4 linked regions of the Homo sapiens genome follow. The protein of the gene in region 4 purifies or fractionates together with the protein of the main gene of each other region. This does not show direct contact. Each region holds a gene or a part of one and is shown on either strand. Other genes may lie near its edges. The genes, in order: ZBTB20, TTC1, PDLIM5 and SYT11.

The links.
Region 1: the proteins of SYT11 (region 4) and ZBTB20 purify together in Homo sapiens (co-immunoprecipitation; 2 studies listed by BioGRID and IntAct, with this or other methods). This does not show direct contact.
Region 2: the proteins of SYT11 (region 4) and TTC1 purify together in Homo sapiens (affinity purification with mass spectrometry; 4 studies listed by BioGRID and IntAct, with this or other methods). This does not show direct contact.
Region 3: the proteins of SYT11 (region 4) and PDLIM5 purify together in Homo sapiens (affinity purification with mass spectrometry; 2 studies listed by BioGRID and IntAct, with this or other methods). This does not show direct contact.

The regions. Positions count from the first base shown.
Region 1 is NC_000003.12:114,331,222-114,339,288, reverse strand, and holds part of ZBTB20 (zinc finger and BTB domain-containing protein 20), read left to right. Parts: coding exon 1-284; 3' UTR 285-8,067. UniProt on the Homo sapiens protein: May be a transcription factor that may be involved in hematopoiesis, oncogenesis, and immune responses. Plays a role in postnatal myogenesis, may be involved in the regulation of satellite cells self-renewal.
Region 2 is NC_000005.10:160,046,524-160,054,590, forward strand, and holds part of TTC1 (tetratricopeptide repeat protein 1), read left to right. Parts: intron 1-2,990; coding exon 2,991-3,139; intron 3,140-4,605; coding exon 4,606-4,660; intron 4,661-8,067.
Region 3 is NC_000004.12:94,650,286-94,658,352, reverse strand, and holds part of PDLIM5 (PDZ and LIM domain protein 5), read right to left. Parts: intron 3,894-8,067; coding exon 3,713-3,893; intron 927-3,712; coding exon 806-926; intron 1-805. UniProt on the Homo sapiens protein: May play an important role in the heart development by scaffolding PKC to the Z-disk region. May play a role in the regulation of cardiomyocyte expansion. Isoforms lacking the LIM domains may negatively modulate the scaffolding activity of isoform 1.
Region 4 is NC_000001.11:155,855,558-155,862,566, forward strand, and holds the start of SYT11 (synaptotagmin-11), read left to right. Parts: upstream 1-4,009; 5' UTR 4,010-4,204; coding exon 4,205-4,238; intron 4,239-7,009. UniProt on the Homo sapiens protein: Synaptotagmin family member involved in vesicular and membrane trafficking which does not bind Ca(2+). Inhibits clathrin-mediated and bulk endocytosis, functions to ensure precision in vesicle retrieval.

The sequences.
Region 1 (8,067 bases), on a different chromosome or scaffold from region 4:
CCCTCAACGTGCACATGCGCCTCCACCGGGGAGAGAAGTCCTACGAGTGCTACATCTGCAAAAAGAAGTTCTCTCACAAGACCCTCCTGGAGCGACACGTGGCCCTGCACAGTGCCAGCAATGGGACCCCCCCTGCAGGCACACCCCCAGGTGCCCGCGCTGGCCCCCCAGGCGTGGTGGCCTGCACGGAGGGGACCACTTACGTCTGCTCCGTCTGCCCAGCAAAGTTTGACCAAATCGAGCAGTTCAACGACCACATGAGGATGCATGTGTCTGACGGATAAGTAGTATCTTTCTCTCTTTCTTATGAACAAAACAAAACAACAACAAAAAACAAACAAACAAAAAAGCTATGGCACTAGAATTTAAGAAATGTTTTGGTTTCATTTTTACTTTCTGTTTTTGTTTTTGTTTCGTTTCATTTTGTACTACATGAAGAACTGTTTTTTGCCTGCTGGTACATTACATTTCCGGAGGCTTGGGTGAATAATAGTTTTCCCAGTCTCCCTCGGATGGTGGCCTTAAGGCCTGGTAGTGCTTCAAGAGGTCCACTGGTTGGATCTCTAGCTACTGGCCTCTAAATACAACCCTTCTTTACAAAAAAATCTTTTAAAAAAAAGTAAAAAAAAAAAAAAAATTTCCACTTGTGAAGAGCACTACAAAAAATATATAACAAAATCTAAAAGGCCTACTGTCTTTAAGTACACCGCTTGCAGTGTTTCAGTGGACATTTTCACAATTCTGGCCGCTTGGACTTCACAGTAACCAGTTAAAACTGTGGAATATCACTTCTGGTTGAAAACCCAGAGGAAAGGCCCTGCTGTTTTCCACCTACCACGTTGTCTGATTTCATAAAAGGGCTGTGGGGGTGGGAAGGGCAGTGGGTTCGGTGGTGTGGGAAAGAAAGACGAATGGCAGGCTTCTTCCCCAGATTCTGCCCGGGTCCACACACCCTGGCCCACCTTCTCCATATCCCCCTCTTGCAGCAGAAGCCAGGAAGACTTGGACAAGCAACAAGCAACAGTGGCTATCGTATTTATTCAGTGTCTTCGCTGAGCCACAGCCTCAGCACAATCAAGAGGGACTTTCATGAAAGGCAGGAATGCAGATAAAACAAAGATATCAGAAATTTGCACCTATGTTTCTAGGTACAAGAGAAGGATTATTTCCAACAATCTTTGCAAAAAAAAAAAAAGTGTCAGGATATATTCTTGTGGAAGAGAAAAAGAAAAAGAAATGGAGGGTGGGGGGAACAATAAAAAGTTCTTGAGGCTTTTTTAATTCAAAATTTTATAGAGGGGCAAAAGTGACGTTTACCAGATAGAATGCTGATTTTTTTAATATATTTACAACAGTATTTGTGTAAAAAAAAAAACAAAAAAAGTGAAATTGTTAAAAGTAATTTTTTTCATTTTGGTTTTGCATACACTGCCACCAATTCCTTCTCTTTTATTTTATTTCACACACATATATATATTTTTTGGTAAGTCAAGACTGTTAAGGTTAGCGATACTGCTTCCAGATAGAAAGAATAAAAGGCAACTAAAGTTATATTTGAAAGAGAGGAAGGATATTTTCTTCATATTTTTTTTAATTTTTCTTAATTTTTATTATTTTAAGTATTGCCTGGGTTGATGAGGGCCTCTGTGGCCAGCCCATCCCTGCTGTAATTTGAATTGCTGCTTTGTATTTTGATATGTAGTTCTTTGACTTTAGCAAGCTTAAGTTGCCCCACTGAATAATTTTTTCAACTGATTCATCTAGAATTCTGTTCTTTTTCATGGAAGAGACTTTATCTTTCAGAAAGAGATTGCTTGCTTCTCCAAAATTTCATTGAGATCTTACAATTCTAGAATTTCTATTGACTTTACTTTTTTTCTTAGTGAAACACTAATAGTCTAGAAGTCTTGATAAATGGGGTCTTTTCTTTTGTGATCAGCCAGGAAGAGGAGTTCACAAAACTCTGCCATAGCTCCTCACCCTTCCCAACTACAAAGAGCATCATTATGAGAAGCCTGTTATAGATCAAGATGCATTGATGCCAAAATTACTTTTTTCCTTCCAAATATCACCTTCTGACTGTTTCCACCATGGTTAAGAGGGCTGAATAAGATGATCATTCTTTAGATGACGAATTAACCCTTGCTTCTTCGAAAGGTTTTAGGGAAATTAACAAAAAAATTCCCAGATGCCAACAGCCACCATTCAAAAGACCACCAATCTATTGCATCATACCAGATGCCACTCTCTCTTCCTAGTAGGGATTTCTCTCCTCGGTCCTGATCAAGGTGTTATAATAGAGACATTTTCATTATAGACAGTGTCCTGAAGGGATTCCAGCTCAAATATAGGAATTCTTAAACCTAGCTGAAACTCCCAAAGTGATTTCATTGCTGGGCATATTTTAACATACTTAGGGGAAAGCAAATCTTTAAACAAAGCAAAACACCAAACTACAGTTTTAAAAAGAAGAAAGGAGAGCGTATTTTAGTTTCAAAATTACATTACATTTTAATTTAATTTTCCTTCTAATTTTCCTGTCAGCATTTTATTTACAAAAACTGTGCAGCAAACGAGGGAAAATCTTCCAACACAAACAACTCTGTAATGACTAAATTGGTTTTATTCATATATTTTAGACATTTGGTTAACTTGGATCTTTTTCATAAGTTCTTTGTGATGCTTTGTAAGGTTAGTGTAACTGAAGTGTTTGTGAGTTTGATTTGGTCCCACAGTGCTTAATTCAGTGGATATTTTGCTAGAAGTTTTAATGTAAACTTGGGTGGTTAACTGACTATTAAGTGTAACCTATTGTGATTTCTAAGAGGAGTCCTGCCAAGAACTGTATGTCCAAAACTGATCTGTTTTAACAGTTAGTGAGGAACAGCTTCCGAGATAAAGTAAGTTCATTTTTCTATTGCTAATTTTGCTTTTTAAAATAGCAGTGTTGTAAGACTAATATTTCCACTTACCACCAATAGAGGGAGCATTAATTAACTATGTCATGGAATTGTTTTGATATTTTGGAAAACAAGTGATTCCACCCATAAAATGAAAAGAGAAGATTGACCTTAAGAAAAAAACTCTTAAAGCTAGGAGACAATGACATGAAATCACTCAATACATGTTACAAATGAAAGAAGGCCAAAAGCCACTTTAAAATATTTTAAACTGTTTCACAGTAGATTTGAAAGTGTCTTTGTTCAAATTTAGCAAAGTAGGAAGAATTTTCACTAATACCGCCTGAAAAGTTGATCTTAGGTGCCATTATGGGCCACGTGTAGCTTTCTGTTTCTCAAATCTGAGAGAGACCCATTTGCCTTAATGCTGATTTGCCATGTAAAATGCTAAGCAATTGGGTTAGAATCCACCTTTTCTTTTGGTAGAACATGTAGAGAAAAAGCTGCAGGTGACTTGAAACCCTGAGGAGTCTATCATCCTTTCCCTGTAAAGGAAGTGTCTCTTAAAAAAAAGGGAGTGGGGGAGGAGGTGGAGGATCCCTAAAGAATTCTTAATGAGGTGATATAATCATTGTAGTCCATGACAAAATGGACCAGCCAGGTTTGCATAGCAGTAGACATATTCCTACTGTACATTTATCCTTCCCAAATATGTCACATTCTAAAATAGTTGACAAATTATTTTGTGGAAAGAGGAAGAAGCTGGATTGGAGTGGGAGATCTAATCTGGAGGAGCAAAGAGGTAGTTGTTTATTGCTATGTTCCTGGCCCATCAAATGGCCACTTTCCAAACTGACCCACATTTTAGGAAATAAACCAATCTGGACCTGTTTCAAAAGGATAGAGATGCTTTTAGATTGTCAATTCTCACTTTTAAGTTAAACAATCACAAATATCTTTAGAAATAGGGAAAGACATTTGCTTCAAAATCAAAGAATGAGTGTGGATCTTTTTAATTTTTTTTTGTTTCAAGTCCTACAGTCATCTTACATTTAGACCTTCATGGTAGGGTGATATGAGTGCTAAAAAAATTTCTTTCTAGTAGCCAGGAAACAGATAGATAAGATAAAAGCAAATGTTCCAGATTTAAGACTTCTTAGGATGAGTACAAGGAAGAGAGAAATAGTATGGAAAGGACATTTTTTAGCAATTTATAATTTTAAAATGGAATTTGCCAAACAAGGGAGAGGAAAAAAAGTCAAAGGGGAATTTTTATCTCAAGATATTTAGATATGGTTTATAAAAAAATAATATTTTCTACCACTAAAAACACTGGTATTATCTCAGCATCATGGGCAATTTTTCCTTATTACATGCCAATATTTGTACAAAAAAGGCCCCCAAATGTGTGAAATATAATCCTAAAAAAGAAAATAATTGGAACACATGGATCTGTTACAATTCTACACAGGGGGAAACAAGCTAAGCAAAGAAAAAAAATCTGAAATGAAAATCTCTGTATCAAAATGGTTTCCTGTATCTTTTAATTGAGAGGTAAACTTTAGCTCCTAATAACAGTTTTATAGACCGTTCTCTTCCCAAATTCCTAATGCTTTGAATCTATTTGTGCCATGATTAAGTGTGCTGGATAATTTCCTGCTCATATTCTAGCCTCAGTTCATTCCTAGTCATCTTAGAGATCATAGTAGCTCTTGGCCTTAGAAAGACTTGGGTTTGCTGTGTTTAAAAGTCATAAGGGTTTTATTTTGTATCATCAAAATATTCTATAAGGTCCCAAATACTCTTTTTCAACCCATGAACAGTAAGAATTTGTGAATTCTGATAATGAAAAAAGTTTTCCTCCAGGTATGTTTGTTTCACATTCAGTCCTAAAGCCTTGAGCTATGTGTACTTCCCTCACACAGGAACACCAGCTGTCCTGTCTGTGCTCTGCCTGCGCCCAAAACTCAATATTTTCTCTCAGCACAGAAGTCAAAAATGAGATATGCCCCTTATAAAACCCCTTCGATTCCTGAGAAAACATAATAAAGCCATATGTTGCTTCCTTGTTGGGGCTCCTCCACAATGCTCCCAACACCTGTGACCCCTAGGAAGACAGGGAGCAAGGTGGATCTGGCCAGGAGTCACAGGATATACACCCATTCTGGAGCTTTCCTCTGTTGTTCTAGAAGATGTTATTTGATTAGTTGGGGCTGGGAGCAGGGGATATATGATTTTGTGGAAAAGGTATCAGATAATCAAATCAGGTCTGCCTCTGCTATAGCCAGTGTGCTGCTGCATTAAAAGGGAACAAAAGGAAGGTGCAACGTAAGAGCAGACACAACCTGAGATGCCCTTGAGATTTAGGAGAACAGGAGGGCGCCCTTTCTGTTGTGACCTGACTCTTAAAAGAAATCTTCTAAAAGAATTCTTTAATTTGGTAATGAGTTGAAGTCCAGGGTAATGGAAGCTCTAGGGCAGAGAACAAAAGAATTGCAAAATGTATTCAGCACCAAACAATGCTAAACCAAGAAACATCCAATCACAAAACTAGGAAGTTTGGCAAGAAGTGGTTAGAGAAATCTCTGGGCTTTTCCATGGGCAGGGTCGACAGACTCTCTTTTCAGTGATTTCTGGCTCTGAGAAACCTCTTTACTCACTAGAAAAGAACTTTATTTAAATGGCCAATTTTGTTCCTCAGAAAAAGAAATTAAAAAAAAAGAAAAATAGGATACTGAAGACAGAACCATGTGACTTGGTGACAAACAAAAGGAGGGGTGCACTAGAATTTCAATAGGCTCCCTAATTCCATAGAAAAAGCAAAGCAACCCAATGCCTCCTGAGCCTGCAGTGCATGAAGAGAGTGCTTGAGCTGACCCAGCCACCAGGCCTTCTGGGGCTAGACATAACTTCCCACTGGAACAGCAGCAGCCTCTTTCCCCTCTTTGTGTTTTCATGAAGAAAACGGCTGTTCTCTTAGGTAGCCAGGAAATAGATTACATGGGGCAAACTTTCAAAAGCAATCTCTACCCTGGTGCTCAGGCTACATACAGAGGCAGAAAAGGGGCACGGAAGAGCCCTTGCTCTTGAGAGAGAGTATTTTCATATTCCCAAGGGCTTTCCGTGTAGAGTTGCTATTTCTGATATCACTTAAACCTTTACAAGAAAAAAGGCTGTGGTGACTCAGTGTTCCTATAAATTCAGAATGTGGAAACTACTAATCCAAAGCATCATTTCTAGCACTGAGTATCAAGACGATCAGCCTGACCAAAATATTGCAAAGAGTTTTCTAAGTCTCTGAAGATTTTTTTCTCCTTGAACACTGAGTCTATAGCAGTCAGCAATGTACCTTAGCCGATCCCTGGGAATGGTTATGGAACAGTAGGGCTTGTTTCCATCCTTTTTAGAGTGAAGAGATAGAAAATTAGGGCTACCTAGTGTGGGTTCTTTTTCAGAACTATGTATTTTCTCCTCACTGCATGATGGGTAAAAATGCCCTGGGTTGAAACAAGAAACATTATCTTTCCACACCACTGACTAAAACACCTGCCAGTGGTTTCTTTAGGCTCCACCTTTTGCTCCGTAAACTGTAGACTTTCAGACTGAAATCTAATCTTAAGTGACCTCAATTAAGGTATTTTCACAAAAGGCTACTTATAGTGTAGCATTATTGCCTTAAATCAGAAAGCCCTGGGAAGAGGATAAAAGATATAGAAATGAGAAGGCTCTGAAGTTATAGGCATTTCTTGCTGTTTAATAGTTACATTATCACAAAAACAAGCCCTATTCATGATTGAGGACTATGGAAATAGTGACTTCTTGAGGAGGCACCAAACTTTCCTAGAACTGGGTACTCTCAGATAGTGGCTGCTATTTCCTATTCTATTTCAGTGACGTAGGTTGGGGCTGAATGTAAAATAGACATCATATTACTAAATAGAATCCTATAAAATGCAATCACAGGTGCCCGGGAGTACTAGTTTTAAACATTTCCTTAACAAGGAGAACAATCCAGCAAAAAGCTTTCTTTCTCTATACAGTGTATATCTCTAAACTTTTTTTCCTCAGTTTTAGAGAACATCTGTTTTATCTGGTGGTTCTTTGTTTGAATGCAAACTCATAACTTTCAAGTCTCCGGTGCAAGAGCATAATCTACAGATCATGGGCAAAATCTAGCCACAGTCCTGAGAGTCCAGGCTTCTGGGATGCCCAGCTGGGTATAAAAGTCCCTACTAACCCTGTTTCAAATTCAGAGGTTTCTTTGGTTTAGAATGCCTCAATGAGATTTTGATACATCCAAGAGAGAAAAAAAAAAAAAAAAAAAAAAAAACCTTGGGGGCATCTGTTTCTACTAGTGTTGCAACAGTTGTTTTTACCCAGCAAACTCATTGCAATTTATATGTAGATTCTAATAATGAAAGAGTCTTAACCCATCCAGTATGTCACCGCTGCTGTCCAAAATGTCTATAAATGAGTATACATTATTTATACATGTGCACACACAGTGTGAGCTTCCCTCAGCACAAAACTGTTTCACATTCATATTGCCCAGTGACAACAAGATACATTTTTGAACTTCTGGTTAGAAGTCGAAGGTCTGACATATCTCACGTATCTGCTTATGCTTTGTTGCCTTAGTTGGGTGCATCAGTATCTGTGATGAGACTTTAGGGCATTCTGAAGGAGCCCAACCATCAGTAATTTCTATGTATCCGTTTCATGAGAAACTTGAATATGCTTATGTGGAGTAGAGTGCATTTAACAAACTCTACAGTTCTATTGGATTTATTGACATGTGTGCACATGTGTGTGTTTGTGTATATACTTATTGTCATCTGGAAGTGTGTGTGCCCCCCAAAGGAAGCACACACAGGCAGAGGTCCTCGTGCATAGATACAGTTGCCTCTTCCCACCATTGTGTTTAAGACTTGTGGCTCCCTTCCCAGGAAGCAGTCACCTGCCCACTCTGTTGCTTTTTGTAATGTTTCAGAATTGGGAGAAACAAATGCAGCTTGTTGAATCCACAGCAAACCCACAGGGACAGGCTGTTTTCCTCCATAATAAGGTATAACAGAAGTCTTCAACTGGTGAGCAGACAAGAGGGAGCAGCAGTCCAGGGCGTCTCCCCAGGTCTCCTGGAGGTGGCAGGGGTGGGGACCAATGCCAG
Region 2 (8,067 bases), on a different chromosome or scaffold from region 4:
TCATTCAGTTCTGAAGCTTTAAATACTATCTATAAATTAGCACAATGTAGCCATTCCACCTTGTGTGTATATTTCAAAACATGTTATGTTATATTTATGTTTATGTTATATACCATAAATATACACAATTTTTATTTGTCATTTTAAAAGTTAAATTAAGACAGAAGGAAAATGCACGGATTTTTTAACCTAAGAAATTAGAGCAACAGGCCGGGCACAGTGGCTCACGCCTGTAATCCCAACACTTTGGGAGGCTGAGGCTGGTGGATCATGAGGTCAGGAGTTTGAGACCAGCCTGATCATTATGGTGAAACCCTGTCTCTACTAAAAGTACAAAAATTAGCAGGGCATGGCGGCACGTGCCTGTAATCCCAGCTACTCAGGAGGCTGAGGCAGGAGAATCACTTGAACCTGGGAGGTGGAGGTTGCAGTGAGCCGAGATCACGCCATTACACTCCAGCCTGGGTGACAGAGCAAGATTCCGTCTAAAAAAAAGAAATTGGAGCAACAAAAATGCAATTAAGGGAAACAAAAGGAGTATTTTCATAAAGATAAAAGCCAAAATTCATGAATTTTAAAATATAAAACTAATAAATACATGCCATGTGTATGGCAGAGTTTCTGTCTTCAACTCTGACTTCTACCCTGTAGTCTAGTGTCCTGTATCCCACTGCAAAGTTCTTTCTTCTTGGATGTCTGGTAGGCACCTCAGATTTAACGTGCCCAGCCCCCACACACACACAAAACTTGCAGTTAGTTTTTTCCATTCTAATAAATGACATTACCATCTGTCCCCTTGCTTAAGTTAAACCTTTGGAGTCATCCCTGATTGTTCTTTCGTGTCACATGGCTAATTGATTAATTAGCAAGTTCCATGGGCTCAAATTTAAAGACATATTTAATGTAATCCGGCTGCTGTTTTCCATCTCTACTACTTCCAGCTTAGACCAAGCCAACATCTTCTCTCATCTGGACCACTGCATTAGCTTTCCAGCTGATCTCACAGCTTTCAGTCTTGCCCCACCCGCCAACACTACAGCCAAAGCAGTCCTTCAAAAATGTAAATCAGAGTATGTCTGAAGCTTGCTTGAAAACTTTCCAGTGGCTTCTCATCACACTGAGGAAAAAGTCCAAACTCCTTTCCCTGGCCAGGAAGGTCCTCCATGGCCCTACATTTCAGCCTCTGATCCCCAGCCTGATAACTCACATGCCAGAGTTATTCTTGTTGGTCCCTCTTCCTGGCACGCTCCTCCTTAGCCTTTCACATGGCTGGCCTCTCTCACATAGTCCCTCTTCATATTCTGAGACCACTTTCTGAAGTTACCTCATTTCTCGCTTCACTTGTATTTCCATGACCTTGTTTTATTTTTCATTATAGTACTATGGCTATTGAAATTATATACCTGTCTGTTCTTGCCTACTAGAATAGCATAAGGCTTCATGAGAACAAGGACTGTGTCTGTCTTGTTTCCCACTATAGCCCAGAGACATACTACATTGGACGTATATATTAAGTACTAAATAAATGTTCACAGAAAGCATGAATTTAAAAATTAAGGATAGATTATGAGAAAAGAAAAAAGTTCTAGAGCCAAGACATTGCTTTTTTTTTTTTTTTTTTTTTTTTTTTTTTTTTTTTGGGACAGAGTATTATCTCTCTGTTGCCCGGGCTGGAGTACAGTGATGCAATCGCCACTCACTGCACGCAACCTCCGCCTCCTGGGTTCAAGTGATTCTTATGCCTAAACCACCCAAATAGCTGGGATTATAGACCCACACTGCCACGCCCAGCTAATTTTTGTATTTTTAGTAGTGATGGGGTTTCGCCATGTTGGCTAGGCTGACGGTCTCAAAGTCCTGACCCCAATTGACCTGCCTGCCTCGGCCTCCCAAAGTGCTGGGATTATGGGCCTGAGCCACCACACCCGGCCAGCACTGCTTTCTAATAGAAAAAGAAACAACTTGGAAGAAATTAGAAGAAATGCAGTATGTTGAACCAAAACATAGCAAAGGATTATTAGAAGGGCAGCTGATGCTGGATAAAGGAAAAGATATTATGCATCAACCACCTCATAGTGCTGGAGCAGTAGTTTGAGGGTTGAAGGAACAGTGAGGATTTAACTAGAAATATAATCTTAGTACTCAAGACCTAGAAAAAAGAGAATGATAGTCTGCCACCAGATTGGTTTCCCTTAACTCTTTAATTTGTATCTTCAAATTCTCTCTCACCTAGCCTGGCCAACATAATGAAACCCCATCTCTACTAAAAATACAAAAATTAGCCGGGCATGGTGGCGCATGCCTGTAATCCCAGCTACGTGGGAGGCTGAGGTAGGAGAATCGCTTGAACCTGGGAGGAGGTGGTTGTAGTGAGCCAAGATCACACCACTGCACTCCAGCCTGGGTGACAGAGCGAGACTCCGTCTAAAAAAAAAAAATTCTCTCTCACTCTTTCACTGCGCACTTGAACTCTGTTCTGGCCTGTCCTGGACTGGGTAAATGACAAGTAGGCAAAAACCAGGACTTGGAGTATAGACCAGGATATGGCAAACTACAGCCACAAGCCAAATCCAGCCTGCCACCTGTTTTTGATAGCCTAAAAGCTAAGAATGGTTTTTACAGTTTTAAATCATTGGAAAGCAAAATATTTCATGATAATGTGAAAATTATGTGAACTTAAATTTTAGTGTCCATAAATAGTTTATTGGAACACACCTATCCTTTTTTGTTTACATATTATCTGTGCCTGCTCTCGTGCTACAATAGTATCATTGAGGAGCTGCGACACAGATGGTCTGTCTGACCCACAAAGCCTACAATCTTTACTATCTTGCTCTTTATAGAAAAAGTTTTCCAGCATCAGGTATACACTTGGCAAATGACTCTTCCTTTCGTATCCTTGGAGGATGATTGATGAAGGAATCTGATATAGCCAAAGATATGTAGGCCATTTTTCTTTGTGATAAAAATTATTTCTTCTCTTTTTACAGCAATTCAATTAAACCCCAGCTATATCAGGGCAATATTGAGGAGAGCAGAGTTGTATGAGAAGACGGACAAGCTAGATGAAGCCCTGGAAGACTATAAATCTATATTAGAAAAAGATCCATCAATACATCAAGCAAGAGAAGCTTGTATGGTAAAACCTAAAATTTTAAAAATATTTTTCCTTCTATTCTTTGTGTTGCTACCCAGTGAGTCCTAAATAATCCTTTCAGACACAATTAAATTCCATTTCTGTGCTTTTGAGGAGCTTATCAAGATATATGGGAGGCCAGGCGCAGTGGCTCTTGCCTGTAATCCCAGCACTTTAGGAGGCCAAGGAGGAGAGATCACTTGAGGCCAGGAGCTCGAGACCAGCCTGGCCAACACAACAAAACCCCATCTCTTCTAAAAATACAAAAAATTAGCCGGGTGTGGTCGTACACATCTGTAATCCTAGCTACTCGGGAGGCAGGAGAATTGCTTGAACCCAGAAGGCAGAGGTTGCAGTGAGCTGAGATCATGCCACTACACTGCAGCCTGGGCAACAGAGAGGATCATTGAGCCCAGGAGTTGGAGGCTGCAGTGAGCTGTGACTACATCACTGCATTCCATCATGGGCAACAGAGTAAGACTTTGTATCTTAAAAACAAACCAACAGGCTGGGTGCAGTGGCTCACGCCTGTACTCCCAGCACTTTGGGAGGCCGAGGAGGGCGGATCACCTGAGGTCGGGAGTTCGAGACCAGCCTGACCAACATGGAGAAACCCTGTCTCTACTAAAAATACAAAATTAGCTGGGTGTGGTGGCACATGCCTGTAATCCCAGCTACTCGAGAGGCTGAGGCAGGAGAATCGCTTGAACCCAGGAGGTGGAGGTTGCAGTGAGCTGAGATTGCGCCACTGCACTCCAGTCTGGGCGACAGTGTGAGACTCTGTCTTAAAAAAACAAAAAATACAAATGAATTTAAAAAAAAGTTAAAAATACAAATATAGCACTGTAAACATCTGATATGTATCCTTTCAAACTTTTTTCTGTATATATTTATTTGTTAAATTTGTATTGATGCCCTCCTTTAGTGTAGACTTTCTATTAAGAACTGGAAACAGAGCCAAACAAAACTTTTTTTTTTTTTTTTTTTTGAGAAAGGGTCTCTGACTCCCAGGCTGGAGAGCAGTGGCACAGTCATGGCATACTGCACCCTCAACCTCCCAGATTCAAGCAACCCTCCCACCTCAGCCTCCTGAGTAGCTGCGACTACAGACACATGCCAACACACCCAGCTAATTTTTGTATTTCTTGTAGAGACAGCATTTTGCCATGTTGCCCAAGGTGGTCTCAAACTCCTGAGCTCAAGCGATCCTCCCAACTCGGCCTCCAAAAGTGCTGGGAATATGGGCAGGAGTCACTGCACCTGGCCCAAACAGAACTTTTGTCTTTATGTAGCGCACCACAAACATAAATACTTGGGGTTTTTTTTTTTTATTTAATAGGATCATAGACATACTTAACTTGATCTTATTTCCACATTAGGATTCTTGTGTTTCTCAAATTCAAAATAAAGGGAAAGGTTTTGGTTTTTTTTTTTTTTTTACCAACCCTTGTTTCTCCTCTTTTCCTCAGAGATTACCTAAGCAAATTGAAGAACGTAATGAAAGACTAAAAGAAGAGATGTTAGGTAAGCTTACTTCTTACTTTGCTTGATCATAAACAGCTAGGAACCTAGGGTGGGGACATAGCGAATACTAGAGGAGAACACATGAGTTAGAAAGTTTCGGACTCTACCACAAGGCTACTGACTTCTGAGTTATTTTGACCCCAGAAGGGGCAGCGTGGCTTAGAGAGGGTATTGGCTTTTTTTGGAAACCAGATTTCCTTTTTGATTTTCTTGGAAATTTTTCTTGCCTGCAAGAATTTAAGCATAATTCAGTTCCCTGGGATTATGCTTAAATGGGATTTAAAATCCTAGGATACCACCAACCTCGATTTCAGATAACAATTACATAAAAACAGTTTAGTTTCTTCATTGAATAATCATTCCTTGAGGTTCATTAGGATGCAGTCAAGATCATGAGAATTTTTATTTAGAAAATGGCACTCAAAGTCCCTTTAGTGTTTGAGAACACACGAGAGGGCAGGAATTAGGAGTAAAGAGAAATCAGACTGGGGGTAGGGGTAGGGCAAATGGATTCATTTGATCCATGTTTAGTTATTTCTCATATTTGCCAAAGCATTTTAGAGTTGGAACCTCCCACGAGCAATCTGCTTAAGTAAGAGGAGTGAGGGTTCCTGAACACAGACTTAAGTCTTTTCCACATGTAACCTGTCTGATATTTCGCTGGTGAAGATCTGCCATGTATTTTCCTTTTTGAGTATTTTCTAAATCTGTTGTTTGAATTACATTTTATAAACTGCAATCATGTGGCCCTAAAGGAAAAATCATTTAAAATAAATTGAGCCTGTCTGGCATTTATGGCCTTCAGACATCAGCATCCAGACAATGGGAACAAATTTCCCAAAGGATCATTCTGATAGCCAAGTTGATTGAGAGGAGGCCATTAACCTAGACTATCCAGAGACTTTGGCCCCTGCCGGGTAGACTCAGACTGTAAAGACGGCTGCTTCCGATTCAGGATAGCTCTGGAGCCTTCCCCAGATTTTCCAAAAAAGGGAGGGGGATGGGGGAGCTTTTCCCCTAATTTACATATTTAATTAAACTTGGCCAGGCACGGTGGCTCCTGTAATCCCAGCACTTTAGGAGGCCAAGGTAGGAGGATTGCTTGAGCCCAGGAGTTCAAGGCCAGCCTAGGCAACATGGTGAAACCCCATCTCCACAAAAAATTAGTCAGGCATGGTGGCATGTGCCTGCCCATAGTCCCAGCTACATGGGAGGATCACTTGAGCCCAAGGGTTAGAGGCTGCAGTGAGCTATGATGGTGCCACCACACTCCAGACTGGGCAACAGAGCATGACCCTGTCTCAAAGAAGAGGGAAAAGAGCATTTTCTCACCTATTTTTACTAACAATGATGCTCTATTTTAGCAAAAAAAAAAAAAAAAAAAAAAAAAACTGTTTGCATTTAGTATTTGAATTTCTTGCTAAAAAAGATGACCTTGTGAATGGCCATAGTGGATCTGGAAGGCATTGGTCTCTTAGTCCATTTTTTTAAAGCCAGTCCAGTAAAGGGACTGGTGCAAACTGAATCTTACTGCCTATTGTTAGTTCCAGATGGAATTAAAACTTCCATTTGTCCTTGTCTTTATAAATTCTAATGCACCAGAATTTTCTGTCTCCAAGGCTTTGGGTTTTTCTTATGTCATTCTCTTCATTTGAAAAAATTCAAATTGAATTCATTCCCTCGGTTGCTTCTAAAATGAATTCACCTGCCATTAGACTTAACCAACTTAAGTTGCTTTGTAAATAATATGTGTTGTTACACATGTGTAGTTTGAATGGCTAGATTCCTTTTTTCCCTTAATGAGTATAAAAATCATGAATAAGATACTGCTCTAGGTGTTACCCCACAATAGATAACCTAGAAGAGAGAAATCACTCTTTACATGGAATTTCAGCCCCCACAAGAGCTTTTCTGGTATTCCTTCCTCCTTGTTGCTGATGAGGTAACTTTGGTTCATGTTCTGTGAGATTCCCTAGAGGCTAGACATTCTGAATGCAAATTAATATCACTTAGAAGTTCTGAGCAAGCTTTTCACAGTGGACTGCATCATCTTTATGCTAGTTCCTGTTAAAATGATGGCTTCTATGGAGAATAAGCAGTTAAAAATTTTTTAAATTGGGTAGTGTGGGCTGGGTGTGGTGGCTCACACCTGTAATCCCAGCAATTTGGGAGGCTGAGCCCGAGTTCAAGACCAGCCTGGGCAACATGGCAAAATCCTGTCACTAAAAAAATTAGCCAGGTGTGCTGGTGTGCACCTGTAGTCCCAGCTACTTAGGAGGCTGCTGTGGGAGGATCACTTGAGCCCAGGAGATCGAGACTTCAGTGAGCCACAATGATGCCACTGCACTCAAGCCTGGGTGACAGAGTGAGACCTTGTCTTTAAAAAAAAAGAAAATTATAAAATCAGGTAGTGTGATGCCTATGCCTGTAGCTTTTGTTCTTTTTATTCAGGATCACTTTAGCTTTCAGAGTCTTTTGTGGTTCCATACAAATTTTAGGATTTTTCTATTTCTGTGAAGAATGTCATTGGTGTTTTGACAGGGATTACATTGAATCTGTGGATCACCTTGAGTAGTACAAAATGGGTTTTTATTTAGATGTGTTCAGTATTCTTTAACTTGTTTTTTCTTCCATCTCTGTAATTTCCTTTTCATTAGAAAGAAGAGCTATGTACTCCTTGAGGGAAAAAATCCTGATAGGAATTATTAGTGGGTAGAACAATTATTTGCTTTGCCCTTTCTAGCCCATCATTTATAATCTTTAGAACAAGAGACCCAGGGTGGCCATTAGTCCTAGTGGCACAGTCCTTGCTGATCACAGAAGATGATCGTGATAGCATCAAGACGATCACTTGAGGAAAGTGGTCAGCAGCTGGAGTGGGGGTTGGTTGTTTTTGTTTGTTTGTTTGTTTGTTTGGTCCTTTTCTCTGGGATAATTAGCCTCCCAGCCATAATAACCAAGGAATGTAAGGTTTAAAAGGACTTAAGGGTATGTGTGGTTGATAGTGTGATGAGATGGAAATAGAGACCCTGGACATAGCATCCCAGGAGGCTCAGAGCATTTTTGAGGAGCTAGTCATTGATGCTTTATTTGCTTTCTCTCTAATGGAATGATTTCACAGTTTTCTTAAATAGCTGGGAAAAAAGTTGGCTGGGTACAGTAGCTCATGCCTGTAATCCTAACATTTTGGGAGGCCAAGGTGGGAGGATTGCTTGAGCCCAGCAGTTCGAGACCAGCCTGGGCAACATGGCAAGACCCCCATCTCTGCAAAATCTTTAAAAATTAGCCAGGCGTGGTAGCACAAGACTGTGGTCCCAGCTACTTGGGAGGCTGAGGTGGATTGCCTTAGTCCAGGAGGTCAAGTTTGCAGTGTTACGATGGTACCAGCCTGGGCAACAGAGCCAAGA
Region 3 (8,067 bases), on a different chromosome or scaffold from region 4:
ATAGGTCCTTTTAGTCTAGTTTATTAAAAATCATTTTACCAAGGGAACAATCCAAGTCAGGATTACCTTCTCATTCAGTAAAAGTAACAAACGATCTCCAGTTTATTTTCAAGGCAGTCGCCTTAAAGGGCAAATCAATATCATATTCTAAAGTGGAACATTTCTGATGTTTACAAAATTCACTACTGGACTACAAGAAGTGGACTTAAGGTACATGATTTAGTAGAATTTATATCCACAAATCATTGGGAATTCAAGCAAAATATTTTTCCTACTAAGTAATGCTTACATTCTCAATTCTAATAATAAAGTTGGGAATATCTGTTTTGACAAAGTCACATTAAAAAGTCTATATAGGGCCAGGCGCAGTGGCTCATGCCTGTAATCCCGGCACTTTGGGAGGTGGATCACCTGACGTCGGGAGTTCGAGACCAGCCGGGCCAACATGACGAAACCCTGTCTCTACTAAAAATACAAAATGAGCCGAGCATGGTGGCACATGCCTGTATTCCCAGCTATTCGGGAGGCTGAGGCAGGAGAATCGCCTGAACCTGGGAGGCAGAGGCTGCAGTGAGCCGAGATTGGGCCATTGCACTGCAGTCTGGGCAACAAGGGTGAGACTCCGTCTCAAAAGAAAAAAAAAAATCTACATAGTTTTTTCTACATGCTTAGAGCAGCATTAAATGCTTCCAAAACAATTAAGAAAATAACTTTGCCTAATATTTTCTTGAGCTTTATAGTAATATAAGGGTTAATGTTTTACCTTTATTCAAAATTCAAGAAACAAATGGCTCCCTGATCTTACCAGTCTCACAGTAGGGTTCACCATCCTCCAAGTGAAAAACATTGTTCCGAATGGGCTTTCCACAGGCTACACACACAAAACAGGAAACATGCCAAGTTTGTTTCAACGCACTGATGACTTCCTGTTACAGAAAGGTAATTGGATGTAAAAAAAGAAGATGACAATAAATACATAAATGTTTATTCTAATATCTGTACCAGTAAATCCCTGTAGAGCTAATCCAAAGTAGGCACACATACTTCATTTTTGTCTTGAGCTTTCCCTCAAAGTAACAAGAGATACTTAAGAACAGACTCACAAATCATCTAAACGGATGCATATTTAGACGTGTGTTCTTTACAAATGCCAATCAATAAACTTAAAGAATGATCACTATGTTATTTATACATTATATGTACAGTGAATAAAGTAAGCATTTCATAAATGCTTGCTACAAAACTTTCTGCTTCTTCTCAAAGGGTGTCAGGAAACATTAACTTACCAAGGTTTTATGGTATTATCTGCAAAAGTTCTGGGGGAAGGAGGAAGCATTTAAAAATTAAAACAAACCTATACTTTGGTGCATTTTAGAAGCAATAATATAATATATATAATTTAATAACAAAACATAATGGGGCCGGGCGCAGTGGCTCACACCTGTAATCCCAGCACTTTGGGAGGCCGAGGCGGGCGGATCACGAGTTCAGGAGATCGAGACCATCCTGGCTAACACGGTGAAACCCCGTCTCTACTGAAAATACAAAAAATTAGCTGGGCGTGGTGGTGGGTGCCTGTAGTCCCAGCTACTTGGGAGGCTGAGGCAGGAGAATGGCATAAACTCGTGAGGTGGAACTTGCAATGAGCCGATATCGCGCCACTGCACTCCAGCCTGGGTGACACAGCAAGACTCCGTCTCAAAAAAATAAATAAATAAATAAAAATAATAAAATATACATAATTATATATAGTTGTATATATTACATGTATATAATGTATATAAATGTATATAATGTAATAAAATATAATAAAAATATAATGTAATCCAATCAGTTTAACACGTGTTTAGGCTTTTGGAAATCAGCTAAGATGGCACTAAGCACAGACTCGAATGTGTAAAATTTGGACCATATTCTAGTCAGCAATGGCCCAATGGTTAAACATACCAAGTTATAAAGATTTGGGCCAGATATTAGTTAGTAAAAGAGGTTTTGGGTGTTGGTTTTACAAGAAATCATTTCTTTGGATTGAGAGAAAGATGGAGCCATTAAAATAATTTTGGATGAGTAGTGAATACTCTTTCTATAATATTTATCACAAAAAATCATATACATAAAGCATGATTACAATTTTGTAAACACATTACTTATAAAGAGCAAACTAGAAAAAAACACATCATAAGGTTAACAGTAATTATCTGTGATTGGTAAATATTTAGGTCATTTAAATTTATTCTTTAAATTTTTTGTGTTTTCTAATTGTGCTTGAGTGAACTATTTTCTTTTATAAAAAATATCAAAATAAAATGAAATAATATAGACTTATTAGCCATAGAAATTGTCACAGTTCACTACTGAAGGACAATGGGAAGAAACAGACATTTAGATCCAAAAAATTCACCATGAACATTTGTAGAAGATGTATATTGAATCAAACTATCTCCCAAGGCTTCCAGAATATTCTTCCCTTTCCATCCTTGAGAGAAATCTTTAACAGGTAATCAAATAACTAAAATACAATCTAGACAAGCTATTGAAGTTCTGGCCCATCTCCAAGGCAATGAGTATGAGATTTCCATTTCCCAGAACTTTATTTGGGTCTAAGACTCTAACTTCACTTTGTTTTGTTATTCTAACATTTATAGAATACCTTGATACACTAAAACAGTATTAATGAATATTCTATTAATTATTTGTTATCATTTGGGAAGGTACAGTCTGAACCATTCCACTTCTTTGTTCCCAACATATTACACAAATCAATAATCTAGAAATATTTCAGGTGACATATATATAATTTTAAGTGTCTTCAACGTTTCAGACATATTTAAGGATATCCTAAGAGATATCTTAAGACTACTCAATAATTCATACTACCTATTCTCTCAATTAACAATAATTAGAGTTTCATTATCATATTTTCACATTGAGAGTATATTAGAGTTCAGCAGGGCCATGTCCAATTTTTGTGTGAAGCCAGGTACTCTGGCTTCTTCTGAAATCAGATTCCAGCTCCTAGTCACCATAAAGTATGCCTGACCCTTACTTTATCATTGGAAACTAGGTATTCCAGAGCAAGAAATTCATGTATTCATTATTTATTATGTACTGTATCTGATTCCTAAATTACTCCTTTTTTTGCAAAAAAGGAAAAAAAATTATTTTTCCATCACATGTGCACTCTCATAAAACTGAGGTTATATTTTTAAACACTGTATGTATTCAAGAAAAATATATCATTTATAAACCTCATGTTTTATATATTTCATGAAATCAGTGTCCTGTGCTTGAACTCTGACAAGTAGGGAAATACTGCTCTTATAAAAGCTATGGAATTTAATTTAAAACAGTGAAGGTGTCAGTTCTAAGAACTCAGATGTGTGTGGTCCTATGCGACCTCTTCATTCCTGAGCAAACAGGCTCCTGTTGAGGAAGCACACCCACAGTAAATTATTTTTTCCCCACAGTGGCTAGACTTTCACCAGACAAGCCAGCACTCAGTGAGACAAAACCAAAGACAACCTAACCCCATGAGTCCGATATATTTCCACAGAGGTCTATTTAGTTTTGCTTTACAATAATAAATAGTGCCGAAAGCAGAGAGGGCATAAAGCAAGAAGAAAATAAAAAGTTAAAGTGATAGAAGACTTTCATATCAAAAAATTATTCTACTTTAAAACTCATTCAGAATAAAAACGTTTCCAATACTTACTCCAAGGATCTTCCTTTGGCATCGACCACATTCAGGGGCAAAGAATTTCTCATAGCACAGCTCACAATACAGGGCTCCTTTCTCCTCTACAAATCCAATGTAGGCCATTGTATTTTTGCAGTGAGCGCAGTTGAATTCTTCTGGGTGCCAAGATTTCCCCAGTGCCACTAAGAATGGTCCTCTGACAGAAGAAAAAGAGGCCAACTAAGTTTGAGAATAAAATTTCTAGAGTTAGCCTGGATATGGACCTCTTTTATGCAATGTCCAACCAATTAAATACTTGCTCAATTTTCCTTCTTAAGGACTGAACTCATGGGTGTTGGGTGTTGTAAATTCACAGAGGGACTCTGCATTGATGTGAAAAGAAAACGGGAGACGTGCACTTAAGGGATTCCTTCAAGAAAGGGCACTCCCCACCCTTTTTCTGCCTAAGGGAATTTGGTGATGTTTTATTGAGCTGAAATGAGGCAATCTGTCTGCATCATGGGTAGGATTGAGAATGAGGATGTTAACTGTGACTGTGACAGAACATGAGGCAACCAGAAAAAAATATATGGTTTAGGCAGAGATGAGACTTTGACACTTCTACAAAAGAAACAAACAAAAACTTCAATTTGGTAAGTCATAGTGCTAAAAATAGTAATAACTATTACCTGAGACAATTTCTCTTCCCCACAATTTCTCTTCCCCACACATTCTTTCATGTATTTATTTCTCAACTTTACTAAACACATCAAGTCCTCACCCTCCAAAATGACTACAGGAACTGTAAACTAGGTATTATCAATTGTCTGAAACTACTCAGAAAGGTTTCATTTCACTCAAATATGACTGATTTATTTCAAAAATTTAATTTTATTGTGGTAAGAACCCTTAAAATGAGATCCACTCTCTTAACAGATTTTTAAGAGTACAATGTAGTATTGTTAATTATGGGCACAATGTTGTACAGCAGATCTCTAGAACTTATTCATCTTGTATAACTGAAATTTTATACCCACTGTGCACCAACTTCCCTCTCCCCCCTCCCCAACATGACCGATTTTTAACACACATTTGTATCAAGGTAACAAATGTTTGTAAGAGATTTTTTTCCCCATTAAATACTTTATGGTCATGAACTGATAAGATGGGCTTGGTTTGCTTGGCAGGAATCCATTATGAAGCCTTATCTAGTCATGAAGCCTGCAGAGACTAACCATTCTAGCCTCTGCAACATACTTTTCAGTAGCTATATCACACTAATTTATATTCATAGAGCAGCTTTACCTCCAAGGCACTTTTACACTTATCTAATTTGTCCATGCAACATTCCTGTGAGACAGACCAGGACAGTTATTATGAATTCAGTTTAACAGATGGAGAAGCCAAGGTACAGAATGTTCAAAAGATATGACAAATATCATAAAATCACTGACCCAGCCAAGGCCAGAAGTTGAATTTCCTGATTTCTAGTATGCCGCTCTAGTCAACTGATATTCTGCCTTTGACCTCATTAACATCACTTATCATCCCTAAGCGACCACATGGTAATTGTTGGTAAGCATCAGACACCAGACTTCCAGGCAGATTATTAACAGGAGAAGTCATAGCAATGAGTATCGCAAAGTCACAGCATTTTTAAAATTCTGACAATAACATAAACCTTGCTATTCAATAACTATCTCCCACTGTAAATTCTTTGTCACCATATTGATGTTTACTCAGAATCAGCACCTAATTCTGCAAGAGTCACAAAAGGAGAAAGGCTCTTGATGAGTGATTAAAAATTTTTACGTGGGGTGTAAGAGGGTATTTTCTAGCCCTACTTTTTGTTAACTTGTTTCTTATTAATAACATGATGCCATTTTGTATAAGCTAGTACATATCATTCTCTTAAGTTTGAGATAGGCAGTTTATTATTATTATTTTTAAAACTTTAGGGTACCATAATTTTGTTATGACTAATAAGGAATGCCTTTGTTTACTAATTCCTGCCAGAAAAGAAAGGCTACAGATCACCTATTCTGTAATCGAATATATTACTTTTGGTAAGTGGTCCATCATTTTCAACTGACTTATAAAATAACAATCCTATTCAACGAGTTCCTTCATCTAATTTTCTCAGTGTATGTTTGGCAAGTAGTTTATCAGCAAAGATAAACCAGGAATCACACTGCTCAAAGCCAGACAAAGTTTGATGAGTGCCCTGTGTTTTTCCGCCAGGTGGGCAACTGGTTATACACGCATGAAAAATCTTCCAGGCTCAATTTACTGTGACCATAACACAGAGCATGGTAGAGCTTTGGGGTTTCATGCTACTCTCTGGCTGCACATTAAAACAGATTCAAAGCCATTTACTAGGGTGAGTTTTTTACTAGGGCACATCTTTAGCTCATCCATAAGGCTGGAGGACTCTTGAGGCTAGTATTCTTATTTGGCTTCTCAGTTTTCAAAGAAGTCAATCCAACTTCAAACTGCATTCTGTTAAAGCATAAGTGTTGGTATGTACCTGGAACAAAATGAAAAGCTCTGCTCCTGGAACATGTCTATCAATGCTATCAAATATTTGACAAAGTTCATCTGAGAAGAAAAAAAGACATTTAAGAATAACTGACCAAGGAAAATACATTCCATTTGCCAGATTTTCTAAAATATGTATTGAGTTCAAGTCAGATCATCAGAAAACTGGGTTCTGTGAATCACAGCATATTGGGCCTGCTGCACCCCGCAGGATTATTCCTTTTATGAACGGTGCTTGTTGTGATACATGAACCTGTACTGGTAGTTGTTACAGGACACAGCTCTATGAAATTCACCCTTGCTCTTCCTGCAAGTTGTTGCTGGAGTGTTGTTAGATCTCATCCAGCGTCACTTTCACATGGTCTCATTCAGAAAAATTCCTCCCTGATTTCTGCAGCAAGAACTATTATGCTTTTCCTCAGCAGTAGTCTTATTTTTATCTTATTGTAAATTGCAAAACTACCTTTCATTTTTGGTAGACTACTAGAAGGCCTAAAGCCAGATTTACAGTCTAACCAGAGGCAAGTGGGCAGGTCATTATTTTAGTATCGTCCAGTCTCGACGTTAGCTTCATTTTTAACGAGCCTATCGATGAATTTCATTCTTTTTCCCCTTTTGTAATTTATAAGATTATCTTATATTTCACATACCTGTAAAAGTCTTTTTACAAACTTGCTGGAATATAGTTCACTATAAATACATAAATTAAAACTACAGTCCATTAAAAGGATGACTTTAAAATATTTCATTAGTTCCTTTCAAATAGCAAAAGGAATTTTAGACAGTAAAGAAATTCCCACTGCACCTTTAAAAAACAAGCTGAAAATGACCCTTGCTCCTCTCAGATCTCCTTTCTTAAACAAGCATGCTCAGGGCAACTACTGGCCTAACTTGATACTTCTTGGCTGTCCTGAAAGAGCATCTTTCTCCATCAATGCCCTTGAAATTATGCACAGATTAAACAATAAAATTAATCTTTCACATATAGCAAAGTGTTTTCTTCTCTGTGTCAGCAAAGACTAATTTAACAAATTCATTAACACAGGATTAACACTAAAGAAGTTCTTCTTGTTCCAGGTAGGATTGGGTTTCCATTTGTGAACAGGAATGACAGGCCTAGATAACTGCAGAGTGGAATTAAGTATTCAGCTATCTCTTCTAGTATTCGATGTCCTGTGAGCCCTTACTAAGTACATGTTGACTGACAAATGGAGGGAGAGGAGGGATTTAAAGCATTTGGTTGGCTGTGAGAGAAGAGCTACGGCATGAAACTTTTCACCCTGTTTATCTTCTGTGAGACCTATCCAAAAAGGCGGGGCATGTGGGGGGAAGAAAGGAAAGGTAGGGAAGGATGCCAAGGAAGAGTTCAGAGAAAAAGGAAAGCTTACAAATACAAAGGTGAAAGGAACTCAGATTTCAACAGGCACAACCTAACTGGGATTTAGCCTCAAAATCTGATGCTTATTTTTTGCTGCTCTTTGTTATTTAATTCTCACAATAATCCCAATGACAGAAATTAACTTTTTCATATACGTGTAGATGAAGAAAACGTCAGAGAAATCAGCCAACTTTCCTAAGATCATATGGATGACGAACTAACTGTAATACTGGAATTTTTCAAAGCCCAACCACAACAGATTTTATTCGACTGAAAATTACTGTATCAATAGAAGTAAAAAACAAGTTTCCCAAAGCTATAAAAAAACTGACGTGCTCAAGAATAAAAACAGAATCTGATATTCTACTTAGTTAAATATACTAATACAAATGTACAAACCACTTTTATGTTTTTGTATTTGCCAACATTGAGGAAGGGCCTGGCGTGAGCAAAGGGCAAAAGAACAACACAGCCA
Region 4 (7,009 bases):
ACTGAGTATTGATACTCAATGTGTCACTGAATATTGTAGATACTCAATGAATGCTCCCTGAATAATAAATGAAACAGAGGTTAAACAACTTATTCTGTGCAGCATTTGGGCCAAATGTTAAGCATTATATAAAAACTGATAGTGGCTTGGTGCAGTGGCTCACGCCTGTAATCCCAACACTCTGGGAGGCCAAGGCGGGCGGATAACAAGGTCAGGAGTTCGAGACCAGCCTGGTCAATATGGTGAAACGCTGTCTCTACTAAAAAATACAAAAATTAGCCGGGCATGGTGGTGGGCACCTGTAGTCCCAGCTTCTTGGGAGGCTGAGGCAGGAGAATCGCTTGAACCCGGGAGGTGGAGGTTGCAGTGGGCCAAGATCATGCCACTGCACTCCACCCTGGGCAACAGAGGGAGACTCTGTCAAAAAAAAAAAAAAAAAAAAAAAAAAAAGGCATCTTATTACCCAGGAAAACTTTACTGTCATAAATAGATCCAATAATAGAATAAGCCGCCTTGTGTTAGATCACTGGCAATGTTCAAGCGAAGCCTGAATGTCCACTTATCAGAGTACTAGATGAAAGCCTGAACTAGAGAACTGAAAAATAAAAGTTATTTGTAACTCTAAGCGTCTAAGGTTAGATTTCTCTTTCTTCTTTTCTTTCTTTCTCTCTCTCTCTCTTTCTTTCCAGAGACAAGGTCTCGCTCTGTTGCCCAGACCGGAGTGCAGTGGCAAGATCCTAGTTCACTGCAGCCTCAGACTCCTGGGCTCCAGTGACCCTCTGGCCTCGGCCTCCCGAGTAGCTAGGACTACAAGGCACTTGCCACCACCCTCAACGACTTTTTTTCTTTTTTTTTTTTTGTAGAGACGGGGTCTCGATTTGTTACCCAGGCTGGTCTCAAACTCCTGGCCTCAAGCGATCCTCCCGCCCCAGCCTCCCAAAGTGCTAGGATTAGAGGCGTGAGCCACCGCGCCCGACCTACAGTTAGTTTTAAACCTCCCTTCTGTTTCTCCAAGACATTAGGGGAGATTCTCCATCCCCTCAATCAACTGATGTAATTAAAACTCAGTAACTAAAGCTCAATAAAACATGAAGATTTCGTTGATTCCTGTGAGAGATGGTGGTGACCTTATAAGAAATAGAATGGGAGTAGCCAGGGCAGCTCTTTTATTTCACAGATAATTACTGAGATCAAAAAAAGGGGAAAAAAAGAAAAAGAAAGAAAGAAAAAGAAGGAAAGAAAGACAGCTACTTCAGCTCCAGGCACCTCAAACACAGCAGTAGCTCGACAGAATCCACTTTTTTGGGAACCCAAGTCGGACCAGCAGGGTGAATGAATGCCAATGTGGAGGCAGCCCCGGCACGGCCCTCTCCTAGGAAAACATTTTCAAAAGGGGTCCTAACCGCGCTTCCACCTCGGTGCCCAGGGCTGGCTCCAGTCCCCATTCCCAACTAGACACTGGACTTCACGCCCTTAACTTCCGCCACGCACCCAGCGCCCACCCTCAGACCCGACCTTCTCAACCTGGACATCGTTCGTCCAGGTGTCCCAGCTCCCACCTGCCTCTTCCCACCCCACCACACACAAACCTGTACCCTCACCAGCCGGCCTGATTCCACGGAAACGGCTTTGGCACCACCGGAAGTCAGCCAACAACAGCGAATTGCGTGCGCGTCCCCGAGCCTCGGAGCGCCGCGCCGCAGTGCATCAAGGAGCATGCGCCTAACACTATGCGCCATCCCATTTTAGGGCAGAGTGAAGCCACAACGTTAGTGCGTCAGTTATTGGCAAAAAAATTTAAAGGCACTACTTAGCTTTCTCTGCCCATGGAGTTATCCTACTCAAAACTGAGGTTAAGATTCAGTGGTTTAGATTAACAGCTAATTTGGGGGCCAGGCGCGGTGGCTCACGCCTGTAATCCCGGCACCTTGGGAGACGGAGGCGGGCGGATTACCTGAGGTCGGGAGTTCGAGATCACCCTGGCTAACATGGTGAAACCCCGTCTCTACTAAATATACAAAATTAGCTGGGCGTGGTGGCGCACGCCTGTAATCCCAGCTACTCCGGAGGCTGAGGCAGGAGAATCGCTTGAACCCGGGAGACGGAGGTGGCAGTGAGCCGGCATCGTGCCACTGCACTCCAACCTGAGCGACAGTGAGACTCTGTATCAAAAAAAAAAAAAGATTAACAACTAATTTTTCTCACTACGAGTCACCTGGAACACAGGACCAAGGGACTGAAGAAGTCATAAAATGCCAGAAAAAGAAGTCTCTAAATTACAAATAGTGCAGGCTCCTGATTAAAACTAAGGCACTCTTGGACTCAGGCTATAGTAATTATTCATATATGTACAATATTCTGCATTTTACAAAATGCTCTCACATTTTCTTAGGTGACTTGGTCTCCACAATAGACTGTAAGATTATTATATCATATTCCAGTTTGCACAGGACAAAGTTCTGGCTCATCTGAGTAGGTGATTTCACAACGGTACACAGACAGCTATCAAGGAGAATCAGGTATTAAGTCTCCTAACTCTAGCTAATAATGCATTGACCCAGTGTCCAGGAGGCTGCCTGGGGTGTAACAGATGTTCAATAATTCAATACGTGCTTTTTGAATGAGCGAATGAATGAATGACTTCTAAAATGATGTTATTTCCACTTTTCTAGAAAAACAATGTCTGGAATCCACGGAGATTAAAAAAATAATAAAAAACAGAATGTCAAAAGGTGGAAAAATACTTTCAACCCCCTCATTTTACAGGTAAACCACCAACACAAATTTATACATTTGAACTAATCCTATCTGTAAACAGAATCCAACGGATGAAATTATCCACAGCCAAAATGAAGGTTGAAATTTATGCAAACATGGCAGTAGTCTGACTAACCTGAATCACACCAACTCTCCCAAATACCAAGGAAGACTCCAGAAGCTCGGAGTTTCATGTGTGTTGTTCTTTGACCTACAGAATACACAGATCTTTCGGTTTGGCCTCTCTCATACGAAACCCTAAGCACTTGAGGTTCATGAAAAAAATTCAACACTGATTAACTTTGGCACTTTTCATTAGTTGTTTTTTTTTTTTTTTTTAAACAGCTTTGCATACCACAATATCCATCTGTTTTACGTGTACAACCAAATTTTTTTTTTTTTTTTTTTTTCAGACGGAGTCTTGTTCTGTTGCCCAGGCTGGAGTGCAGTGGCGCGATCTCGGTTCACTGCAACCTCCACCTCCTGGGCTCAAGCGATCCTCGTGTCTCAGCCTCCCAAGTAGCGTGTGCCACCACGCCCGGCTAATCTTTGTATTTTTAGTAGAGATGGGGGTTTCACCATGCTGGCCAGGCTGGTCTCGAACTCCTGACCTCAAGTGATCTGCCCGCCTTGGCCTCCCAAAGGTTTGGGATTACAGGCATGAGCCACCGTGCCCGGCTGTTTTTTTAAAATTAGTAAATGTTCAGAGTTGTGCAACCATCCCCAGGTTTGGTCTTTCATCAGAGTTTCTGAGGTTTAAGACAGTTTCCATCCACTGTGAAATATAAGCCAAAAAAAAAAGTTCTGTAATAACCTTTAGCGGTCTCAGAAATGCATAATGATGGCAGTCGATACTGAAATCCAGGCAGTACAGAATTTTATTTTCCCAAAATTCTGGAACTCAGGACCGAGAACATTTTGCTGCTGTATTAAAGCCCAGAAAACTGAAATCAGAGGATTTCATATAATAATCTACCTATGCTTCTTACCCTTCAGTACTTTCTCGTTTTGGAACCACAGCGCGTCAGTGGGCGCGGCCTCATTCTCGGGAAAACTCGGCGGTGGGAGGAGTCCCCTCCGGGAGAGCTTCCTGAAGGGGGCGAGGGCTGACTTCCGTAATCTTTCGGAAGAGGCGGAGTCTTCTTCCGAGGACCATTCGGAAGAGGCGGAGTCTTCTTCCGAGGACCATTCGGAAGAAGGCGGAGCCTACCTCTCATCAGGACCAGTCTGACTGCACCTGCATCCTTAGCTCAGCGCATCCCCGGAGCATCTTAAGAGCTGAGCGCAGCTGACAACTAGGGGCCGGACCGTCGCAGGAGGCGTCCGCTGGATACCTTCCCCCTTCCCTGACCTAGAGCTCTACAGCTGCTGCCTCGGTACTGACCGAGGGTTCCCAGAGCTGTCTCACCATTGCAAAAACGTTATAGCAACAGCCTCTGATTACGACATGGCTGAGATCACCAATATCCGACCTAGCTTTGGTAAGTAGACTCGGGAAAACTAAGCTTGAGGTGGTCAGAATGGTTGCAAGGCCAAGGGGGCCCAGCGGCAGGGCAGAGAATGCAGCCCAGACCAGAGCCTTCAAAATGCCAGCCCCACTAAAATCGGGCCTGTGGTGGTGGGTAGTGGGTAGTGGGCAGTTGACAGTGCATGAACTTGAGCTATGGGCTGCAGGGACTGGCAGGGCCTGAGCCACACCGAGGGTGGGGAAGTCCAGGATGCTAAAACCTTGTATGGTGCACTGTCAGCACTGCTGGAGGTGAGAAACAGCAAGCGTGCGGAGGATGTGAACCCCTCCTTCTGGGGGAGGAGAGGTGGGGTAGGCCAAGCCCTCCCCCTTGGGGCACACAGGGCGGTGCCCCTTCCTCCCCCTCCCATTCCTAAGGGCTGCGGGGGAGGGAAGTGACAAGGGGGATGGGGCATCAAGATGGCAGCTTGGAGACTGTGGGCCGTGTGGCTGGCAGCCAGGGGAGGCGGCGGCCTCTGGGGAAAGAGGGGTGCGGGGTGGGGAGCAAAAAGGAAGCCACTCCTTAAGCCGGTCAGCTGGATGCTGGGGCTAGGAGGAAACGTGAGCCCTGCAAGCTCCATTCCGCATCGTAATGGTGGGGTCCCTCCGATGCTACCAAATGGCGCTTGGCGCTGCTGGGCTGGGGGATGACGTGATGTCTATTTCTGGGCCTCCTGGCAGCGCCGACGCTCTCCTTCCGGGGCCTTTGTTCCCTGTTTCCCTGGGCCGCCTTTTCAAAAAGGGGGACTGACCAGCGTTGATGCTGGCGGGGGCGCGATCCAGGCCGGAGGGGGAGGGGCGAAAGAGGCCCAGCCCGGGGGAGGCCGCTTTGTGTACCGCAGAAAGCATTACGTCATTTCAGAGCGGCTGGTCCCCGACCCAGCCCTGTGGGCTCCAAGATTAGTTTTACACTCTCTGGAGCAGAAAGTGGAGTGGAAAATAGGGAAGAAGGTGGCAAAGACAAGCTTGAGAAGGAAGTTTTTTCCTCTTTGGGGACTCCTGCAGTATATGCTAAAGGAGCAAACTTCCTGTGTTATGCTTTCCTGATCAAATAAATAAAATATAATTGCCCTGCTTCTCCTTGATTCAGTTTAGATGGGGGAAGCCAGTGAGAGTTGCTGCCAAAGAACCTTCTTATTCCTTCAGGGATTCTATCCCTCAGACAATCCAGTAGGTTTGAGCATCGGGACTCCAGTTTTTAGGGTGGAGACACAATCCAGCTAGGAAATGGCTTTTCTCATTCCTGAATAAGAGGTACAGTGAAATGAGCAGAATCCAGTGTGCTCTATCCCCTCAGAATAAGGAAGAAGAAATCAAATCAGATGTGTTCAGATAACTGATCTTCACACTCATTAACTACTTGTTCTCACTTATTCCACAAGGCTAAATCTTGATGGTATTTTTTCTTCCACTTCACCTTCCGCATCTTTATTCTTTGAGTTCTAAGTTTCCAAAACAAAAGTCCCTTTCATGATCACATGAGCAATCCATGATTTCTTCCTGTTCTTTTTCTTCTTATTCCCTTCCAACAGATTCCTTTCTCTAACTGCAGTTCCAGAATCCTTGAAAAAAGGAGATGGTGTGGAACATAATATAGTGATTTCTCTTAGAGGGACTATTATTGGGAAAGGGAAAATAAATTATATCAGCCTGTTACATACTACATTTTATTTAATCCTAACAAATACCCTCGAGTGTATGTATTATTATATATACTTGCCAGACAAGGAAACCAAAGCTCAGAAATAAAATAACTTGGCTAAAGCCAAACAAATGACTAAAGGTAGCACTAGTTTGTTTTTGTTTTTGTTTTTGAGACGGAGTTTCGATCTTGTTGCCCAGGTTGGAGTGCAATGGCGTGATCTTGGCCCACCACAACCTCTGCCTCCTGGGTTCAAGCGATTATCCTGCCTCAGCCTCCCAAGTAGCTGGGATTACAGACAAGTGCCACCACACCCAGCTAATTTTGTATTTTTAGTAGAGATGGGGTTTCTCCATGTTGGTCAGGCTGGTCTTGAACTCCCGACCTCAGGTGATCTGCCTACCTTGGCCTCCCAAAGTCCTGGGATTACAGGTGTGAGCCACTGCACCTGGCCAATGCTAGGATTTAAACCAATGTCTGGCTGAAGCCAAAATTTATTCTCATTCCATTGTATTATATTTGTCTACTTGACTGCGAAAAGCTATGTTTAGGAAAGGGGGTGTCAATAAAAGCAGTTCTGGTCAGAAGCTGAAGGAGCTGGCCAATAGCCCAGATGTGTCTTGCAGGTCTTTAAACCATTACAGAGGATCTCCTACATAGAGAACTACCACTTCCAACTTTTTCACATCTCATAGAGTACTTCATTTCAAATGCCACAGCACTTGGGTGATACACCAAGCCAACACTCAATTATCCATGACCATGAAGGACAAAAGGAGCGAGAAGCACAGGTCACTGCAATTTATAGCTACTTTAAAACACTCACTTCAGCCATTAGTTTCAACTTCCATTTCCCACCAAGCTTTGGACTAAAGCAAGACAGAGAGCTCTAGGTTTTAATATCTTTGATGATTCTAGCTCATTGTCTTGGTTTCAGGGAGAGAGGCAAGAGTTAACAAATACTAAAATGAAGAAAGAACAGCAAAAATAGGAAACAAGGCCAGGGGGAACAACTAGATAATTCAAAGATGCGTTCATCTGTTTCTCTTCTTTTCCTTCTCTATCCTCCTGGAATATGAGAATTCTTCATCTTCTCTCTTTTC